2 linked regions of the Homo sapiens genome follow. The protein of the gene in region 2 purifies or fractionates together with the protein of the main gene of each other region. This does not show direct contact. Each region holds a gene or a part of one and is shown on either strand. Other genes may lie near its edges.

Evidence for each region.
Region 1: the proteins of USP37 (region 2) and ANAPC7 purify together in Homo sapiens (affinity purification with western blotting, with the first as the bait; one study listed by BioGRID). This does not show direct contact.

The regions. Positions count from the first base shown.
Region 1 is NC_000012.12:110,393,662-110,397,313, reverse strand, and holds part of ANAPC7 (anaphase-promoting complex subunit 7), read left to right. Parts: intron 1-861; coding exon 862-1,048; intron 1,049-2,093; coding exon 2,094-2,213; intron 2,214-3,652. UniProt on the Homo sapiens protein: Component of the anaphase promoting complex/cyclosome (APC/C), a cell cycle-regulated E3 ubiquitin ligase that controls progression through mitosis and the G1 phase of the cell cycle.
Region 2 is NC_000002.12:218,495,273-218,498,924, reverse strand, and holds part of USP37 (ubiquitin carboxyl-terminal hydrolase 37), read left to right. Parts: intron 1-767; coding exon 768-899; intron 900-1,067; coding exon 1,068-1,191; intron 1,192-2,974; coding exon 2,975-3,165; intron 3,166-3,652. UniProt on the Homo sapiens protein: Deubiquitinase that plays a role in different processes including cell cycle regulation, DNA replication or DNA damage response.

The DNA of each region.
Region 1 (3,652 bases), on a different chromosome or scaffold from region 2:
CAAAGTGGTGGGGTTACAGGCGTGAGCCACCGCGCCTGGCCTTTCTTTAGTATTTGAAGAGCTTTCAGGTTTTTTCAAACTTCTTTTTGTGCATTGGTTTTTTTTTGTTGTTGTTGAGACGGAGTCTGGCTCTGTCGCCCAGGCTGGAGTGCAGTGGCATGATCTCGGCTCACTACAGGCCTCCTGGGTTCATGCCAGTCTCCTGCTTCAGCCTCCCAAGTAGCTGGGACTACAGGCGCCTGCCACCACGCCTGGCTAATTTTTTGTATTTTTTAGTAGAGATGGGGTTTCACCGCGTTAGCCAGGATGGTCTCGATCTCCTGACCTCGAGATCCGCCCCCCTCAGCCTCCCAAAGTGCTGGGATTACAGGCGTAAGCCACCGCACCCAGCCTGTGCAGCCTGTTTTTAAAAAGGATTCAAAGTGGTGAGGTTTCTCTGTACTTCATCTTAATATGAGAATATGGATAGATATATCTCAGACTGTTAAAAGGGCCTGGTGGCCAGGCATGATGGCTCACGCCTGTAATCCCAGCACTTTGGGAGGCCGACGCAGGTAGATCACTTGAGGTCGGGAGTTTGAGACCAGCCTGGCTAACATGGCGAAACCCCATGTCTACTAAAAAAAAAAACAAAAATTAGCTGGGTGTGGTGCCATGTGCCTGTAATCTCAGCTACTCGGGAGGCTGAGGAAGGAGAATCACTTGAACCCGGGAGGTGGAGGTTGCAGTGAGCCGAGATCGTGCCACTGCACTCCAGCCTGGGTGACAGAGTGAGAATCTATTTCAAAAAAAAAAAAGAAGCTGGGGGAGCTTGGATTGAAAGGGAGGAAAAGATGTATTACATTTTCTCTTGTTTTCTAGTGAGTTATTCTCCCCACCTCAGAAGTACCAGCTTTTGGTGTATCATGCAGATTCTCTCTTTCATGATAAGGAATATCGGAATGCTGTGAGTAAGTATACCATGGCTTTACAGCAGAAGAAAGCGCTAAGTAAAACTTCAAAAGTGAGACCTTCAACTGGAAATTCTGCATCTACTCCACAAAGTCAGGTAATTGGAGATAGAATTGTGATTTTTTTTTTTTTTTTTTGAGAAAGACTCCAAGAATTTAGAACAGGGTCCCCAGGCCCCAGTGCCTGGTCTGTTAGGAACCAGGCTGCACAGCAGGAGGTGGGTGGAGGGCTAGTGAATATTACTGCCTGAGCTCCGCCTCCTGTCAGATCAGCTGCGGCATTAGATTCTTATAGGAACACAAACCCTATTGTGAACTACACATGCTAGGATCTAGGTTGTGTGTTCCTTATTATAATCTGACTAATGCCTGAAGATCTGAGGTGGAACAGTTTCATCCTGAAACCACCCCCTCACCCCCCATCTGTGGAAAAATTGTCTTTCATGAAACTGGTCCCCTGGTGCCAAAAAGGTTGGGGACCGCTGATTTAGATGATAGCTGATTAGATGTAGAAGATGAGGCCAGAAGCTGGGCGCAGTGGCTCACGCCTGTAATCCCAGCACTTTGGGAGGCCTAGGCGGGCGGATCACGAGGTCAGGAGATTGAAACCATCCTGGCTAACACGGTGAAACGCCGTCTCTACTAAAAATACAAAAAATTAGCCAGGCATGGTGGTGGATGCCTGTAGTCCCAGCTACTTGGGAGGCTGAGGCAGGAGACACCAGCCTGGGTGACAGAACGAGACTCTGTCTCAAAAAAAAAAAAAGAAGATGAGGCCAGGCACAGTGGCTCACACCTGTAATCCAAGCACTTCCAGAGGCGGAGGTAGGAGGACTTGAGGTCAGGAGTTTGAGACTAGCCTTGGCAACATAGTGAGACCCCTGTCTTTACAAAACGGCATGGTGGCACATACCTGTAGTACTCAGAAGGCCAAGGTGGGAGGATCGCTTGAGACTAGGAGTCTAAGACTGCAGTAAATCATGTTTGCACCACTGCATTGCAGCCTGGGCAACAGAGCGAGACCCTGTCTCAAAAAAAAAAAAAAGAATTGCTGGGTCATATGATAACTCTATGTTTAACGTTTTGAAGAACTGTCATATTGTTGGAATAACGTTTCAAAGAAATATTTCCATTGTCTTTTAGTGTCTTCCATCTGAAATTGAAGTGAAATACAAAATGGCTGAATGTTATACAATGCTAAAACAAGATAAAGATGCCATTGCTATACTTGATGGGATCCCTTCAAGACAAAGAACTCCCAAAGTAAGTTGAATGTTTATGTGTTTTTCTCCTCAGCTCTCCTAACCCTGCTCCCTCTCTCCATGTTTTCTCATGCATTAAGGAGTCCGTGTGAACATTTTACCCATGATTCTAATTCTCATTTTCTTCCTCTTCATGGAGTGGGGGTGGGGGACCCTGAAAATCCAGCTGATGAAAATGATAGCTGGAGAATACTACACATGCTTATTCTTTGTTTTTTCTTTTTTATTTTTTATGTTTAACTTAATTTAATATTTTTTGAGACAGAGTCTCACTGTCACCCAGGCTACAGTACAGTGTTGTGATCCTGGCTCACTGCAGCTTCAACCTCCCAGGCTTAAGCAATCCTCCCACCTCAGCCTCCCAAATAGCTGGGATTACAGTTGCATGCTGCCACACCCAGCTAATTTTTTTTTTTTTTTTTTTTTTTTTTTGAGGTGGAATTTCACTCTTGTTGCCCAGGCTGGAGTGCAATAGCATGGGGGCTCACTGCAAAGTTGCCCAGGCTGGAGTGCAATAGCATGGGGGCTCACTGCAACCTCCATCTCCCAAGTACAAGTGATTCTCCTGCCTCAGCCTCCCGAGTAGCTGGGATTATAGGCGCCTGCCACCACGCCAGGCTAATTTTTTTGTATTTTTAGTAGAGATGGGGTTTTGCCATGTTGGCCAGGCTGGTCTTGAACTCCTGACCTCAGGTGATCCGCCCACCTCGGCCTCCCAAAGTGTTGGGATTACAGGCGGGAGCCACCGCACCTGGCCAATTTTTTTTATTTTTGGTAGAGATAAGGTTCCACTGTGTTGCCCAGGTTGGTCTCAAACTCCTGGGCTCAAACTGTCCTCCCACTTTGGCCTCCCAAAGTGCTGGGATTACAGGTGTGAGATGCCACTCCAAGCCTATTTTTTATTTTTGTTTTGTTTTTTTTGTTTTGAGACAGAGTCTTGCTCTGTTGCCCAGGCTGGAGTGCAGTGGTGCGATCTCGGCTCATTGCAACCACCACCTCCCGGGTTCAAGTGATTCTCCTGCCTCAGCCTCCTGGGTAGCTGGGATTACAGGCACCCGCCACCACGCCCAGCTAATTTTTTTTTTGTATTTTTAGTAGAGATGGTGTTTCACCATGTTGGCCAGGCTGGTCTCGAACTCCTGACTTTGTGATTCGCCTGCCACGGCCTCCCAAAGTGCTAGGATTACAGGCGTGAGCCACCATGTCCGGCTATTTTTTTTTTTTTTTTTTTTTTGAGAGGGAGTTTCGCTCTTGGTGCCCAGGCTGGAGTGCAATGGTGCAATCTCAGCTCACTGCAACCTCTGCCTCCCGGGTTCAAGCAGTTCTCCTGCCTCAGTCTCCCAAATAGCTGGGATTACAGGCATGCGCCACCATGCCCAACTAATTTTGTAATTTTAGTAGAGACTGGGTTTCTCCATGTTGGTCAGGCTGGTCTTGAAC
Region 2 (3,652 bases):
TGACCCAGTAATTCCTTTTCTGAGCATTCATTTTCAGAGAAATGAATAAGTTATATTTAAATGAAAAAATAAATTATAAGTAAGAATGAAAAGCACTTTAGTTAAGCCCCCAGTCATGTTTAGCATTAATTTTGAAAATGTATACTTTTCCATTAGATCAAACTAAGTTATTATTTATTTATTTATTTTATTTATTTTGAGACAGAGTCTCACTCTGTTGCTGAGGCTGGAGTGCAATGGCACAATCTTGGCTCACTGCAACCTCTGCCTCCTGGGTTCAAGCGATTCTCGTGCCTCAGCCTGCAAGTAGCTGCGATTACAGGCGCATACCACCATGCCTGGCTAATTTTTGTGTTTTTAGTAGAGACAGTGTTCCACTATATTGGCCAGGCTGGTCTCAAACTACTGACCTCAAGTGATCTGCCTGCCTCGGCCTCCCAAAGTGCTTGGATTACAGGCATGAGCCACTGCGCCTGGCCTATTATTATAATGTCATAATGCAGTAGTTCTCAAAGTAGAGTCCCCAGACCAGCAGCATCAACGTGATCTAGTAACTTGTTAGAAATGGACATTTTTGTGCCTTCTTTTTTTGGACACATTTGTGTCCAAACCTACTGAATCAGAAACCTTGGGGTTAGGGTGTAGTAATATGTAGTTTAACAAGCCCTCCAGGTGATTCTGAAACATAAAGTGGAGAACTCCTACTATACTGAACATACTTTAGGAATTCCTGTTGCCTTCTAAAGCACTATTTCTTTAATTTTCAGCTTCTCCAATTTGGGAAATACCTGCTATATGAATGCTATTCTACAATCTCTATTTTCACTCCAGTCATTTGCAAATGACTTGCTTAAACAAGGTATCCCATGGAAGAAAATTCCACTCAATGCACTTATCAGGTAATCATTATGTACTGTACTTACTGAGTAACCTTTTACTTCATTGATTATAGAATAATGGAATTTTAGACACTCAAAAATTTTCTGTGCCATTATTAGTAATTATTCTTTAAAATATCACGCCATGTCATGTAAAACGTGCTAACTTTGTGTTTTTTGTTTTACTAGACGCTTTGCACACTTGCTTGTTAAAAAAGATATCTGTAATTCAGAGACCAAAAAGGATTTACTCAAGAAGGTTAAAAATGCCATTTCAGCTACAGCAGAGAGATTCTCTGGTTATATGCAGAATGTGAGTATTAATTGTTTTAAAACGTTTCAGAGGCCTGACACGGTGGCTCACGTCTGTAATTCCAGCACTTTGGGAGGCCTAGGTGGGCAGGTCACCTGAGGTCACTGAGGTCAGGAGTTTGAGACCAGCCTGGCCAACATGGCGAAACCCTGTGTCTACTAAAAATACAAAAATTAGCCAGGCGTGGTGGCATGCGCCTGTAATCCCAGCTTCTCGGGAGCCTGAGGCAGGAGAATTGCTTGAACCCGGGAGGCAGAGGTTGTAGTGAGCCAAGATCATACCACTGCACTATAGCCTGGGTGACAGAGCAAGACTCCATCTCAAAAAATAAATAAATAAATATTTATAAAAATAAATAAAATAGGCCAGGTGCGGTGGCTCACGCCTATAATCCCAGCACTTTGGGAGGCCACGGTGGGTGGATCATGAGGTCAGGAGTTTGAGACCAGCCTGGCCAACATGGTGAAACCCTGTCTCTACTAAAGATTAAAAAAAATTAGCCGGGCATGGTGGCACATGCCTGTAATCCCAGCTACTCAGGAAGCTGAGGCCGGAGAATCTCTTGAACCTGGGAGGCAGAGGTTGCAGTGAGCTGAGATCGCACCATTGCACTCCAACCTGGGCTACAGGGCAAGACTCTGTCTCAAAAAAATAAAAATAAAACAAATAAATAACGTGTAAGAAATCATGGAAATTGACATGATTTTAGTGTGTTTCTTGATTTTTATTTTAAAACGAGATTTGTGTATGTGTGTTCATTATAGATTGAAAAACCTGAGGAGAGGCTGGGTGCGGTAGCTCATGCCTGTAATCCCAGCACTTTGAGAGGCCGAGGCGGGTGGATCATCTGAGGTCAGGAGTTCCAGACCAGCCTGACTGATGAGGTGAAACCCCATCTCTACTAAAAATACAAAAAAATTAGCCAGGCGTGATGTCGCATGTCTGTAATCCCAGCTACTTGGGAGGCTGATGCAGGATAATCGGTTGAACCCTGGAGGCAGAGGTTGCAGTGAGCCGAGATTGTGCCATTGTACTCCAGCCTGTGTGACAAGAGCGAAAATCTGTCTCAAAGAAAGAAAGAAAGAAAGAAAAACCTAAGGAGCTGTAGTAAGATTAAATGTGACTCTTCAAATATAGATTTGATTTACCAGTGCAAGGACCTGGGCTGTGTTACCTGCGAAAATTACCTCTTTTAACAAAGTGAGGAGTTATTCATTGATTCATGTCAGTGCAACTGATATAATTATTAAGAATATATAATCTGTCATTTGTTTTTATTCACAAAATATGCAGCTCCCCAAATTCTTATAAGAATAAACCTGACATTGTTCACATATGTCATTGACTTTCAAGGGTTTTCACTGTATAAATTATAATGTTAATAAGCTATTATTTTTTGTTTGTTTTGTTTTTTGTTGTTGGTTTTTTTTTCTTTTCTTTTGAGACGGAATCTTGCTCTGTCACCCAAACTGGAATATAATGGTGCGATCTTGGCTCACTGTAACCTCTGCCTCCCAGGTTCAAGAAATTTTTCTGCCTCAGCCTCCCAAGTAGCTGGGATTACAGGGACTGCCACCACACCTGGCTAATTTTTGTATTTTTAATAAAGATGGCATTTCACCATGTTGGCCGGGCTGGTCTCGAACTCCTGACCTCAAGTGATCCGCCTGCCTCAGCCTTCCAGAGTGCTGGAATTACAGGTATGAGGCACAACACCCAGCCTCAGTAAGCTATTGTGACAAGAAATGTTTTTATCTGATTAAGGATATTGTTGTCTTATTAGGATGCTCATGAATTTTTAAGTCAGTGTTTGGACCAGCTGAAAGAAGATATGGAAAAATTAAATAAAACTTGGAAGACTGAACCTGTTTCTGGAGAAGAAAATTCACCAGATATTTCAGCTACCAGAGCATACACTTGCCCTGTTATTACTAATTTGGAGTTTGAGGTTCAGCACTCCATCATTTGTAAAGCGTAAGTAGTGTCTAAGAAATGATTTCCCTTTTTACTTCTTTATGGCAAGTGATTAAAATTCTTCTATGACATACCAAATGCCATGAATTCTTTTCTGTTTTTAAGACAGGGTCTCACACAGTTGCCTAGGCTCTTGGGTGCAGTGGCACAACCCCAGCTTATTGCAGCCTGGATCTCCTGGGATCAAGTGATCCTCCTACCTCAGCCTCCCGAGTAATGAATTTTTATCTCATCTTCCTTTCTACGTCATAGGGGAAATATAAACCAACAGATTATATCAAACCTTTTTTTCAGAGTCTTTTTCTATAGAAATGCTTGGGCTGGGCACAGTGGCTCATGCCTGTAATCCCAACAATTTGGGAGGATGAGGTGGGCAGATGGTTTGAGCCCAGGAGTTCAAGACCAGCCTGGGCAACATGGGGAAACCCCATCTCTACAAAATATATAAAAATTAGGCAGGTGTGGTGATGCACACCTATAATCCCAG